Homo sapiens: one gene and its partner. The protein of the gene in region 1 binds, or shares a complex with, the protein of each later gene. Each region holds a gene or a part of one and is shown on either strand. Other genes may lie near its edges.

The links. Proteins that work in one complex are often made in the same cells at the same time.
Region 2: the proteins of GPR158 (region 1) and RGS7 are in contact, whole or in part, in a cryo-EM structure (PDB 7SHF), measured with the Homo sapiens proteins. Residues at the interface, in NP_065803.2 of Homo sapiens: Leu507, Lys508, Phe510, Leu511, Arg513, Thr514, Tyr595, Tyr598, Ala599, Thr602, Val603, Pro604, Ile714, Arg715, Leu718, Lys719, Tyr722, Leu725, Glu726, Tyr728, Lys729, Arg730, Met733, Ile734, Thr735, Asn736, Asn737; in NP_001351815.1 of Homo sapiens: Gln35, Ile43, Ser55, Arg109, Phe110, Thr112, Pro113, Tyr114, Phe115, Lys134, Thr136, Lys140, Ala141, Arg142, Leu143, Leu145, Ala146, Asp147, Ala150, Leu153, Gln157, Trp164, Phe168, Met169, Gln170, Glu172, Ala173, Gln174, Lys176, Val177.

The regions. Positions count from the first base shown.
Region 1 is NC_000010.11:25,170,867-25,178,014, forward strand, and holds the start of GPR158 (metabotropic glycine receptor precursor), read left to right. Parts: upstream 1-4,134; 5' UTR 4,135-4,554; coding exon 4,555-5,456; intron 5,457-7,148. UniProt on the Homo sapiens protein: Metabotropic receptor for glycine that controls synapse formation and function in the brain. Acts as an atypical G-protein coupled receptor that recruits and regulates the RGS7-GNB5 complex instead of activating G proteins.
Region 2 is NC_000001.11:241,347,179-241,354,205, reverse strand, and holds part of RGS7 (regulator of G-protein signaling 7), read left to right. Parts: intron 1-7,027. UniProt on the Homo sapiens protein: GTPase activator component of the RGS7-GNB5 complex that regulates G protein-coupled receptor signaling cascades.

The DNA of each region.
Region 1 (7,148 bases):
AACTCCTATTTTCTAGATTTAGAGAAAGGGCTCAGGGAGGTTGAAAAAAATTGTCAAGAGTCACATGATTAGAAAATGGTAGAACCAGTTAGAGCTGAGTCTCTCAATGGCCAATCCAGTGCCCTTTCACCACATCCTGTAGTCTTAATCCTTGCTTATTTAAATGATTTAAAGCTGTATTTAAATATTTTTTAAAACTCAACCTATACTGCTCACATAAAATATGATTTCAGTAGTTTGTGACCTTTATTTTATTTAAAGATATGTTAATGTCACATCTTCCTCTTTATAATAGTGATAAATCAATCATATAAAGACAACTAATAACCCATATGCCCATTACATACTGCTTTTTCATCAGTGCAAATTTGGTTGTTCTAAAGCAATTAGATTGACTTTTCAGGCTGTGTTGAAAAACTCCTTGGGCTTTTCCACCCATGGTCATAGGTCATGTACCCATAGTTCTATTAAAATACAATAAAGCTCCTACACAGTATATATGTTCATTTAGACAACTTAGCTCTTAATTTTGAGGCATGCATAGGGATATTTATCTCTATCTACAAAGCATGCTTATATAATTGGGGGAGGGAGATAATCATCCCCGCCCCACTTCCTGTCTTATCTTATAAAATGATTTTCCTTTGTGTCGATTGTTTGTTCTATTCTTATTACATATGACCGTTAGCATATTGCATTTATTTTTTTCCACTTGCCTTTCCTGCTAAGGAGAGAATATTTGTATTCTTAGTGCTTCCATTCACTACTCCCTCTACTTAAGGTAAGTTTCTTCCCATCTTACACTTACCTGGTTCACTACTACTTACTACCTAGGCAGTTACTCCTCATTCTTGGGGTTTCAGCTCAATTGTCACCTCCTCATAGTCTTTCTTTCCTTTATCTCTTTATATATGTTCTCTGCTCCTGTACCTTGCACCCTTTATCACTTCACAGTGTTTATTTCTTCGTGGTACTTATCACAACATGCTATTGTCTTATTTATTTGTTTGCATTTTTATCTCTAGCTCTCTCTCTCTACCCACTTGGCTGTAAGAGCCACGTAGACAGAAGATGTGCCTATTTCGTCCCAGTACCAAGCACAATGCCTGATACATAGTAGAGGCTCAATGAACATTGGTTGAATGAATGAATATGTCTTATGCAAGATGGTGTAGAATTTTGTTGTCTGCTTTGAGGAGTGTGTGTGTGTCTGTGAGTGTGTGTGTCAAACCTTGATCCCTTAAAAGAATCTCTTTTGGATTATTCTCTTTACTGATAGACACTAACATAGACATAGGATTATCTACCTACTCAGTTACCTTGATTCCAGACCTATTAAATGGACCAGAACTCCTAGAGCATTTGGAACTTTGTGCCTTATCTTGCATGGACCTAGATTTCTTAGCACTCTGGACCGCAATGGACTGTCTTCTAGAGCTTGTACTCTAGGGTAGCCTCTGGCCACGGGTGGCTAGTCAGCACTTGAAATGTGGCTAGTGTGAAGTGCCTTGTGCTGTGAGTGTAAAATACAAATCAGATTTTGAAGACTTAGTGTAAAAAGTGTAAAATATATCATTAATACTTTTACATTGTTTACTTATTGAAATGATAAAAATTTGGATATATTGGGTTACATAAAATTTACTATTAAAATTAATTTCAGTCTTTTTCTTTTTACTATCTTAATATGCTATTTGAACATTTGAAATTATTTATAAGGATCCTACTTCTGGTTCACATTGTATTTCTATTGGGCAGTGCTGTTCTAGATCCAACTAGCTCATCCCAGCTGTTTGGCAATGTAGGTTGAAGGGGATCCATTGAAGGGAATACTATAATTGCAAGAGTCTCTCATATTCTGCATCTTTCTCATTAGATATGCACTTGGGAAAGGATTGGTGCCCTGGGAGACTAGCTCAGGTGCCTCCCCCGTACAACCTCAATGTGAAATCCCGAGGCCCACACACAGTTTGTGTCCCAAGACACAGAAATTTTAAATGTCTTGCCAGTGGTCATATATCTTCCTTTAAAATAAAGCTAGAACCAGAATCCAGGTCTTTTGATTGTGCTTAGTTCATTTGATTACTTACAGAAGGATCTACGAATACAATTATGTCTTCTTTTAAGTTAGATACTAGAGGATTTTAAAGAATTGTTAATAAGTTATATAGGTTTTCTAAAAGGATCAATGAATGAGGAAATTATACTTCGGACTTTAGATGGTTAAGTAAATGGAATACCATAGTTTATACTTTGATACATTAAATAAGCAGAAACTCTTTCTGTTATTATTGCCACCCATACTGTGGCAGAGCACTAAACCGGGATGACCTTTACTTAGCATAGGAGCATACATTGCAAAGAAAAATTTAAACAAAAAGTCGGAAATGAACATGAAATCTACTTGTAAGTAAATATAAATCTAATAACCACTCTTTGCATAACTATAAAAACTCATTTGGAGACCAACCACTGCGGTTTGAAAAACTGGTTGCTGTGTCTTCTTCCAAAAACCCTCATCACTGGTGTGTCAGGCAGACTTCTCTTCTTGGGTGAGGAGATTGATTTTTAAGTTAGCTTCATCATCATGATCTTCCCATTCATTCACTAATTTAGCAACTATTTAGCCAGAGCCTACTATGTGCCAGGTAGTGTTCTGGGTGCTCAAGGTACCTCAGTGACCAATGCAGACAAAGATTTTTGCTCTTTTGGAGCTTACATTCCAGTCCTTAAGTATTTTCTCAATAGGAAGGATGACATGAAATAGTACAGTGAATCTAAGCAGTGCCTGCTTAGAATGCCATGAGGGACATTTTTGTTAGTTGGGAATTAAAGTAAGTTGGATATTTTCTATTTGTGTCTTTCTTGGGGAATTTGAAAATAGAGGTGCATATGGAAAGTGGAGCTAGCTGTGCAAAACACTACTTTTCTGGTACCAGTCTACTTTTGGAGTGTCAGAAGACACTTAAATTCTCTAATAAGCGTCAAAACATCAATTAGATTGTGTTAAGAAATTTACCAATAATTTGGGGGACTTGGCATACTTGCTCAGTTCTTCTTTCTTCTGCTGGGATATCCCAACCTTTAGCTAAATAGAAGTCTTAGTTCTTATCTCTCAATTCCAGGAACTCCCAGTCAGGATGATTTCCCTTCTCACTCAACACAGGCTCCTTCTCATTCTCCCAGAGCTCATGAGTCCTCCCCCTTGCTCTCTCCCTTACACATCTTTACTTGCATACATTTTTACACGTTCCCCTCCATTCTGGCCCCCAAGCAGAGATTCCTTAAATATGACTTTTTTTTCTCTCCTTAAAGCACAGCTGGTAGATTTCTCCATTACTCCCTCAGCTAAGATGAGCCTAGACAAGTATGTTTTAATCATTTCTTTAACTGACAACAAGAAAGATGATTTGATAATTTGCCTAAAATGAGCAGATGCTCAGGAGGACACGTCTCCATCCTATGTCCCTTCTGTCTAATTTCACCTAGAAATGAAAACTACTCCCTTCTCCCTCTTTTCCAGGCAAAAGGCTGATTTAACTAAGCATGCAAGACGCCAACACCCTCCCCCTCAGTACGTCCAAGTTTCCTTCGCTCTGAGCCACCGAATCTCTGCTTCTCCCCCCTCTGCCGCCCACCCTACGCCACCCACGCAGGTTTCCGAGTCATCCGGAACGCGAGTGGGTGCGAGGACTCGGCAGGCTGCCTCCCGCGCCCCCGCCGCCCGCGGGCCGCCTCGGGTTCAGCACTGGACAGCTCCCTCCCCGGCCCCACAAATGGCAGTCGGCTGATTGACAGAGGAGCCGACCAAACAGGGAACAAGACGACTTGCAGCCGCCCTACAAGGGTTTGGTTGCGGCCAAGCTGCCTCTTTAAACTGGCTTTCCTCCCCCGAGGAGGGAGCAGGGAGAGAGGGTGGAGTGTGGTTTGCGGCCAAACCTAAAGGCTGCAATTAACCAGCCGCCCGGCCTTCGCTACTCCGGACAGACGAACGTCTTAAAGGACGTCTTCGCTCCTCGGGAGTCGCGGCTGCGCTCGCGGTGCGGGTCTGGGCGCGCGCCCCGCGCCTCCGGGCGAAGCGGTCGAGGAGGAGCCAGTGCCGGGAGGCGGGAACGACCTGCGGCGGGTGAGACTATGGAGCAGCGTCTTCGGCGGCCGCGGCGGCAGCAGCAGCAGCAGCTTCTGAACGCGCCTCAATGAGAGCGGCGGTGGCGGCAGCCGGGCCGAGAGACGGACTCGGGCTGACTCCAGCCGCTGGGAGCGCGAGGCCATGTAACCCGCTCGGCTCCAGGCTGCGAGGTGCGTAATCCCCAGCCGGCCCCTCGCGCAGCGGGCACGGCCAGCGCTGCCACAGGTGACTTGATTTCTGCGACGGTAGCTTAGCCACCCGGGGCCAATCTCGAAACATTCTTATTTTCAAGTCCTTTGGACTGGGTGCCATCTGGAGAAGGGGGAAGACTCCTCGAAAAAGTCTGACTGTTGAGAAACTGACGATCCAAATTTAAAAAGTGATTCCCCCCCCTCCCGTTCCCTCCTCTTCTCTCTGGGAGGCAGATGGGAGCCATGGCTTACCCCTTACTCCTCTGCCTCCTGCTTGCTCAGCTGGGATTGGGAGCTGTTGGCGCCAGCCGCGACCCCCAAGGACGGCCGGATTCCCCTCGAGAGAGGACCCCGAAGGGGAAGCCGCACGCCCAGCAGCCGGGTCGAGCCTCTGCCTCGGACTCCTCGGCTCCCTGGAGCCGCTCCACCGATGGCACCATCTTGGCGCAGAAACTCGCCGAGGAGGTGCCCATGGACGTGGCCTCTTACCTCTACACCGGGGACTCCCACCAGCTGAAGCGAGCCAACTGCTCCGGCCGCTACGAGTTGGCGGGCCTGCCGGGGAAGTGGCCAGCCCTGGCCAGCGCGCACCCCTCCTTGCACCGGGCGCTGGACACACTGACACACGCCACCAACTTCCTCAACGTGATGCTGCAGAGCAATAAGTCGCGGGAGCAGAACTTGCAGGACGACCTGGATTGGTACCAGGCGCTGGTGTGGAGCCTTCTGGAGGGCGAGCCCAGCATCTCCCGGGCGGCCATCACCTTCAGCACCGATTCGCTGTCCGCACCGGCCCCACAGGTCTTCCTCCAGGCCACGCGCGAGGAGAGCCGCATCCTGCTCCAAGACCTGTCCTCCTCCGCACCCCACCTGGCCAACGCCACTCTGGAGACCGAGTGGTTCCACGGCCTCCGGCGCAAGTGGAGGCCCCACTTACACCGCCGCGGCCCCAATCAGGGGCCCCGGGGCCTGGGCCACAGCTGGCGGCGCAAGGACGGGCTCGGCGGGGACAAGAGCCACTTCAAGTGGTCTCCGCCTTATCTGGAGTGCGAGAACGGGAGTTACAAGCCCGGGTGGCTGGTTACTCTTTCCTCTGCCATCTACGGGTTGCAGCCTAACCTGGTCCCGGAATTCAGGTAGGGAGGGCCGGGGGGCAGGGGGGAAGGCAAAAGCGAAGCTTTCCTTCCGGTCTTGTGGGTGGGTGCACGTGTGAGGAAGGAACCCTTGGCTGTGACGCGAACGCTTCTCACCCTCAGAGTAGAGACCCGGGCTGAGGGACACCCCACGCGGGCGCGGGTGCTTGGGGGCAAGAAGCGCCCCACGCCCGTCAGCTTCCGGCGCTCGGCGAAAGCCATTCATTCTCTCGGACCAGTTTCCCCGCACTGGGCGAGGGACAGGCAGCCCTTGGCAGGACGGAGACACCCCCGCTGCTCTGTGCTTCCCTCCAATTGTCCGGAGAGCAGGGAGGGGCGTTCCCCACCGGGGGGCGATGCGACAACTTGGCGAGCGCCGGGTGTGTCCGCGGAGTGGCAAGCCTCAGATGAGAGGCGAAAAGGGAGCAGGAGGAACAGAGAGTTCCTTGTTTCTGCCACTTTGGGGTAGCCTCTGCCTGCTTCCTACGTGTGCAGTTGGGGGCACCGGTCTGTTGTTAGTCAGAGCTTATAATTAAAACTGTGCCATCTCCTCGCAGTTCCGGCCCCTCAGCAGTGAGTCAGTCCCAGCAGCTAGCTGTCTCTGGGATCCAGACTTTGCAGCTTGGTCAGGGTGCTCCTTCTACCGGTCTCCCCTCTCCCCGCAATTGATCTTTCCTTCCTCGGTGGCCTTTTCCTCCTCTTCCCTGTCTTAGGCATACTTAAGGGTTCTCCAGCCCTTCACACACTCACATGATTTATAAAAGGACCTAGTTATATTCGGGAGGGAGGCATCAGTTGTGACTGAATTCACTCAAGGAGGCTGGAGGAAACTTAAGGGAGTCTGTACTTCCTGTCTCAAACTATAGCATTTGAGGGAAGCAGAGAATTTGCAAATTAACAGGTTTTAACTTCTGCCTGGGAAGTGCCTGACCTTTGAGGCGGGGAATTTCTAGAAGCAACCTTTAAGAGTAGATGTGAGGAAGGAACTGAAAGAGTAGTTACACCAAAGAGGGCTTAGGAGAGGGCCCAAGATGAACTGAGATCTTCCCTTAGTCCCATGAGGGAAGGCTCTGGAAAGAGGGTCTTGGGGGCTGAGGTTGCTTTTGTACTTTTTGGGAACCTGGGCAGGACTGAGAAACCTTTGTGTGTGGATTATTTATTATTTTTTAAATACCCTGTCACAGCAAGGTCAGGATGCTGACCTGCTGAAAGATGCCAGATCAAGTACTGGGTGGGCAAGTGGGAAAGGTCAGAAGGCTTGTTTGTCTTGGTACTGCCATTTACTGCTGAATGACCTCAACCAAGTTGCTTAACCTCTCTGGGCCTCAGCTACTTATCTGTCCAGTGAGGGAGTTGAACTAGACAGTCTCTAGGGAGCCATCCAGTTATCAAGTTTTGTAGCTTTTAATGTTGGCAACACTTGCAAAGGCATAAAGGATAATAAACCCCTTTGTCTGATTCTGTATGACCATATTAAGTGCATGTGTGTGTGTCTTTGCCTGTGTTTCTATCTCTTTTAAAGGTCTTGTCTTAAACCAGACTAACTCTTTTCTACTTTCAAGATAATCTCATTTCCTCCTAATTCCTGCAGGATCCTATTAGTAAGAGCTGAGCCCAGCTTTGAATCTTTGCCATACTGTTTGCTCAGAAGAGGAAAGACCAGCAGATGCTATTCACTGCCAGCAAACTGTAGCC
Region 2 (7,027 bases), on another chromosome or scaffold:
ATATTTTGTGTTTGGTAAGACTCTGAGTATTGTAATATGCAAGCTGTGAGAATTTTGAATTCTATCTTATGGGTGTATACAATGTGAAGAGTTAGACTTTTGGTTGGAAAATTATAGTAGTAAGCTATTTCCGTTAGGCTAAACAATTGTATTCCCTCTCTGTTTCCCTTTAAAAGATTAAGGACTGAGTAGATTGGACACCTAATAGTTATCTTCATTAGAAATAAACTAAATATGCAGCAACTAGTGTGTGTCATTCAGTCAGTTATTATGAGAACAAAAAAAGAAAAAATAAGAAGACAGGGCTTTCAGAAATAGTTATTTGACTGTTTAGTGTACCTGAGCCTCATATTGGTAATTTTGGGTTTACTCTACACAGTGTTGTATAGCATCGAATCGCCATTAATTTTACTTTTAAGTTAACAGACTGTAATGATTTCAGGAAGAGAATGTACTACCTCATTTTTTAAAGCATGATTATTTTGTTGATTAAGCTGGGAACTGCTTGTGCTACTCATTTTTCCCTTCTTTTATTAGCTTTTTGCTTATTATTAGTGACCACATATAACTTACTTGTCAAAGAAAGATTTTCTTGATAAGGCATTATTGGAAAAAGTAACTCCTTTCAGTACATTTTACTCTTAATGCTTACCTATGGATTGTCTGTCTATTCTTGTATTCTCTGAGCATATGTTTTTTGTTTTTCTTTGTGATAGAAATAACAATATATAAATAATATCAGATAATGTATAAAGAGACACAGCGTCCTTGCTTATCATTTGCTAGTTATCAGGTCAAATGGTCTTTATCTGTGTGTAGACATAGATCGTGACATCACATATTTCGTGTGTCCATTATGCTTCTATTTTTTCTATCTTATATGGGCTTTCCATTCAATATCTTCTCAGTAGAGGCCAAATTTCAATGTGAAGAACAACACAATAATTGGAGAGGGGTGTTGGTTGAATATGTGTGTTAGGATATTTCAACTGCTCTGCCTTCATAAAGGAATAAACACTAGATTACAATGCTTATTAATTAGGAAGTCAATCGAAGACTTAGAAAAAAAGTTCAGTTCCAATAGGACATTGCTTAGTAACAGTGGAGAGAAAGGATAGAGAAATTGCTGTTCTATTGACTCATGCCCATTTCCCCTTCTACTTCACTATTGAAGCATCGTTCTTGAAAGTGTGTTCTGAACTGGGAATATTCGTGGTGTTTTCCCTCCTCATGACACCTCCTGTTTACTTATTGCATATGACTCTGATGATTTACACACACTCAAGATATGTATGTGCTGTTTCCATTTTATCTTCATAGGCTATTGGTTTCCAAAGTGGAATACACAGAAAAGCTGGGATGTGTAAATTTCTTGTGTGTGTTTGATGTTTCTCTCGTTATCACTATCCTCATACAAATTACAGGAGTTCCTCCAAATCACAGAAAGATTCCAGGGATCTGTTTTCCATGGAGAAGTCCATAGGAATCTTATGGAAAAAATGTACAGCGGATAAAACTCTGATTGTTAAGGTAGAGTGGATATCACCCTATTGAAGGGTACAGGTGATGGTAATGTTGCTTCATGATCCGGATTAGGGTTGGTACTTGCAAGTCAGTCTTGGATGTTGGCCAGTAGGTTTTTGGCATAATACAGGGAATCTCAGTAGAGTTCATTTGATGTCAGAGACACATTTTAAAAATCCTTATAGGCAAATTATTTGCCTTATCAGTTCTTCTGTTTAGAGTGCTGTCTTTTTCATAAGCAGATGATTAAATTACAATGGCTGTGGTGTTTTATGTACTTGAGGGTGTCTTGTTTAAAAACACATAAAATTATGAGGCTTGACTGCTTTTATTCCTGGCACTTTTTAGGCCTCCTTCAGTCAGGCCCCTAACTAGATTAGAACTAGTAGTAATCAACTGCCTTAGGAAGAAGAGACCCAACTAACTCCAAGAGGTGTTGGATTCAGATCAGCTTCTTGAAGAATCTGTAGAGGTGACAAGTCAAAACTCAGTGTTATTTGGTGTTGATGGATCTTAAACACTACCCCCGTTTTTGGTCGGCTTTAGACAAAACTCTCCTTTGTGGGGGCAGCACTGGCCGTAAAGAACAACTGAGTACAGGGAGAGACACTCCAAATTTGGTGTCTGGCCAGCATGCTGTCCACTAGACAGTATACATCACTTTCAGTCCAGCAGCTGACATTCCTGCATTTGAAAAACAAAATTTCTAGGTCACCTTGGGGCCAGAGCTTCAAATTGGCTGGAATGCTGGCTTCTCACTAGCAAGACTCCTCAAAATGCCCAATAATTTCTGATATTATTGCAGCTATCATTTATGCTCAAGCTGTCAGAAAAGAAAATGAAAATGTTTTCCTCATTCATTATCTTACTGCAGTAAACATGGTTTTGGAAATAGCAGACTTACCAAGTTCACTGTTCCTCACCCCTCTCCCCCTTCCCCTCACCTTTCTCCTATGCCCATTCTCTCCTCCATTCTCCTGTGCTGTCCCTTCATCCTTATATAGTCTCTTGCTTTGCATTCGTTTGTTTTTATTTTTTCTTTTCAAACCTGACTTAAAGTTGAGGACATAATTTGCACTGTTTATTTAGTTGTAAAGGAGGAAACAATGCCTTTTGGAGAAGAGAATAGATGCCAGCCTTGTTACTTGTGAAGCTCAGGTACCTGAATAAATCTTTCACATATGGTATCATATGGTGGTACTGGCAAAAGGTTGTTATTTTAGGGTTAAGATTGCTCCATTCTATTTTTTTTTTTTTTAAATAAAGTCAGGGTATTGCTCTGTTGACCAGGCTGGAGTGCAGTGGTGCAATCATAGCTCACTTTAACCTTGAACTCCTAGGCTCAAGCTATCCTCCCACCTCAGCCTCCCAAGTAGCTGGGACTACAGGTGGGTGCCATGATGCCTGTATAATTTTTTTGTTTTTTCTAGAGATGGGGTCTCACTATGTTGCCCAGGGTGGTCTTGAATTCCTAGGCTCAAGCCATCCTTCCGCCTCAGCCTCCCATACTGCTGAGATTACAGGGGTGAGCCACAGTGCCCAGCCGTGACTGCTCCATTCTTGAAGAGCAAGACAAGACCACTGGCTTTTCTTATATGAAGTCACAGTGAGAGCTATCACCCAACCAGGAAGAGTACTTACGCTGATTGGCTTGATCTAAGCATTGTCTTTGAAAGCTACTTCTGAAGTCAGCCTGTTTTATGAGAGGAGACATACTTGCCAGAGAGAGGAGTGGCTTGATTTCTTCTCTGGAAGAGACTGGGCCACAGATATTACTGGTCTCTTAGCATTGAGCTAGCTGACATATTCTACATTAACTCAGTGGGTTTGTCAGTGCAGGACTGCCCATCTGGTCAACGCTGAGGGTGTCGATGTTTCTCGCCGAAATCCCCGTCGTGAAAAATAATCTTTGGCTTTTTTTTTTTTTTTTTTTTTTTTTTGAGATGGGGTCTCATTGTATTGGCCAGACTGGTCTTGAACTCTTGGGCTCAAGTGAACCTCCTGCTTTAGCCTTCTGAGTAGCTGGGAGTATAGGTATGCACCACCGTGCCCAGTTGATCTTTAACATTTTTGAACCTTAGTTTTCTTAATCCGTCTGGGTTTACTACATGTTAGCAGAGTGAGGAATATATACAAGGGACAACAAGACAAAGACGCACTAGAAAAGGAAGGAATGTTTGTAAAAGATCATTATGAAAGGCATGGTCCTTTTAAGCCCTCAGATTTCTAAATTAAGGGCTCAGATGGGAGGCAGGCACTGAGAGAAGGATCTTGCCATTTCTGAAAAATTTTTAAATGGAGTGTCTTTTGTAAATCAGATTATTTGAAAGAAACTTTCTGGACCAAAGGATGTTGTCTACCCTAAACATATTCAGATCTGTTTTTATCTCAGTGATACTAATACTGACATGTACCCTGAGATAAGATAGGACCATCATTGATATTTCCATGATGATATTTCTTGATGAGAAGTAGATAGAAGGATTTTATGAGTAATCATTTAATGATGAATTTTGGATAATAATTGAGTTTAGAGCAGGAGAGTCTTCCAGGGTTGAGCTCTTTCCTTGCCAGTTGTTGTTTGTCAGTGCTACTTGTGGGATTATGAGAAGGATTTGTGGCCTGAATTTTATTTCTTTTATTTCCCACTTCCAATCTCCCTGAATCTAATTGATCAGAGGAAAGTGCAAATGTGCAAAAGAGAAGCCCTCGAGGGATTTTATTACCTTCTAATAGCCTCTGTGGTTCTAGTGAGTGATGGAAAGCAGGGTATTTTTAGGAAGTGTGGGTGACAGAATGTGATCACTGCAGAGAATGTGGAAATACTTTGAATTTGGACAGTTTAGTGACTTTAATGTTAAGTCTCTTTGAAAACAAGATTGTGGAAAACGAGCAACACAAATAATTGGCCCTTGCTTTCCACTTCATGACAGTGATAAGGAGGCATATGGATGTCAGGGTTACTCAGGCTTCTATCCTACAAAATATCAACCCAATTATAAAATAATTGTAGATGATAGAGTGGGTGCCCAGTTCCGTAGGAAACAAAGGCCCACTTCTTTCTGCCATTTGCCCACAGCCATGCAAATTTAACTTGGCTTCTTTTTAATGCCCTTTGTCTTGTGTCTAATTAACAAAAGTCTCAGGACATTGGAACACTAACAGGCAATCATGAACTCAATTCCAGCTCCACTGAAATTGCCACCTGGTCTAGACTAGAAAATATTTTGGCTGAGTGGCCTATCTGGAAAGATACATTGTTGTTTTGTCGTCTGGAAAAATATATAGGAAATGGCAGTTTTGTGAAATTAGCTGGGTTCCTAAAAAGTTTGAGAGTCTTCTTTGGTCCTTTCTGGTGATTGACAAGTAAAAGTTTTCTTAAGGAGACAATGGGTGGAAATGGAGGAAGCATGTGCACTAGAATTGGGAAGTCTTGGTTTTAAATCTCAGCTCTGCCACTGTTTAGTTGTGTGGCTGTGGTTTGGTGACCTAACTTCTTTCACTGCAGTTTTTTAATCTATAAAGTGATAAAAAAATAAAAAATGTTTTAATGTTTTCTTCATAGAGCTGTTTGATGCTAGAATGGGATAGCCTGGGGAAAATGTCTTGCATAGAACCTAGTATATATTAGGTTTCCAATACATGCCTGCTAGTATAATTAATATTATTATCATTTTATCTTATTACTATTCTTCAACAAAAATTATTAAACACCCGATATATGCCAGGTGGGGTACCCTATGTTACCATATTTTTTGATAATGAAAGAAAAGTGAATGTTTCCACTACCTCCAGTCATATTTTTCTGGTAAGATAAAGAGGAGGCTTCTGTAGGATGCATTGGTAATACCATTTTTATGATACTTAAAATGTCCCGTCTTACATTGTTTAGCCCTATCTAGACAGCTTCCTCTACTCATTAATGGGAAAGTCTTTGGCATCTTGTCTTATATATCTTGGCAGTCTGCACAGTTCCTTGGGTATTATGCAAACTATATAAAGCCTTAGAATCCAGGAATTTCAGAGGTGAAAGGAAACTCAGAGTTAATCTACTTTTTCATTTTGCAGATTATGAAATTTAGGATCAGAGAAGTAACACAATTTGCCTGAAGTCACGCAGCTTGAATTCAGGTCTTTATTTATTTGTCTTTCTATGGCCTCTCTTTCTTTCTCTGTCAATAAATCCACTAAGACTTTGTGTTTGTAATTTAGTGTCAGTGAATAATCAGCATCCTGGTTGCTTCATGGGCATCGTGGATTATACCAGGATATCTAGTCAACCCCTCTAAATAGATTAGATGCTTTTTTTTCTCTGACCTGTAGTTTAGCTCTTGGAACCCCAGGAACGATAAGATTGGGAACTTAGTCTGACCTATTCTGGTGGTCGTTCTGTTCATATCTGATCTTAGCTGGAAGTCCTGGATTTGATGCTCTATGGCGATGCTGTCCAATAGAACTTTCTATCATGACCGAAATGTTCTATATGCTCACTGCCTGATATAGTAGCCACTAGCCACGTGAGGTAACTGAACACCTGAAATGTGGTGAGTGTTATTGAGGACCTGGATTTTAAATTGTAATTAATTTTAATTAATTCAAATTTAACTTTAAATGGTCTTGGTGGCTAGTGTCCATTGGATTGGACAGCACAGTGGCAGGAAGTAAAGGACTTTGAACAAATAGCATCAAGTCCAAGACAAGAGATAAAACAATATGCTATACTTAAACAGTTGCATACAGTGCTTAAAACAAAGTAGAGTTCAACAAATTATTTTTTTTTCAAGAGAATACAACAGAACTTTTAAAGGAAGACCATAGACCATGGCCTCGTAAGGGAATGGTAGATATAATGGTAAATGACACTGATTATTTACTTGGTTTATGACTTTTTTTCTCTTTTTTTGAAACTTTCAGTGGTCTGAAGTGAGTGACTCTCCTAACATCAGATGACATAGGTTGTCTTTCAGTAAGACAAAGGCCTGCATGTACCATGAATGTACTGTGCAGGGTGTTTATGGGGCCTCAGATGATTTGCTGATGTTGAAAGTATTTCAATTCATCTCTATTTCATAGCATCTCAGAGATGTATCACAGCCACTCCAATTCCTAACAAGACTGAGCAAAAACCAGAAGCTTCTGGGTAAAAGGGATTTAAAGTGTTTAGAACCCTTTCTGAGAATTTTAAATTGAGGTATAAAAGGTATAAAAGGAATCTATTTTTTATAATCTCTCTTCTCTTGTCTAAGTCTCTGAACTTTTAAAGGAGGGTGATAGCCCATGCAGAGTAGTAGTCATGAAGGGTCAAAGGACCGCGAGTCAGAAGAGCTGGATGTGAATTCTCACCCCACCCCTGAGTAGCTATGCAAGCTTGGGCAAGTGTCTCAACTTCCCTTAGTGTCCTTGCAAAAGCCATCTTTGCAAAACACTTCCTGACCAAGTCTTCCTCTGCTTGCTGTGTGTCCCCAAGGCTGTAGATCATTTAGAAGCCCAGTTGACATGATTT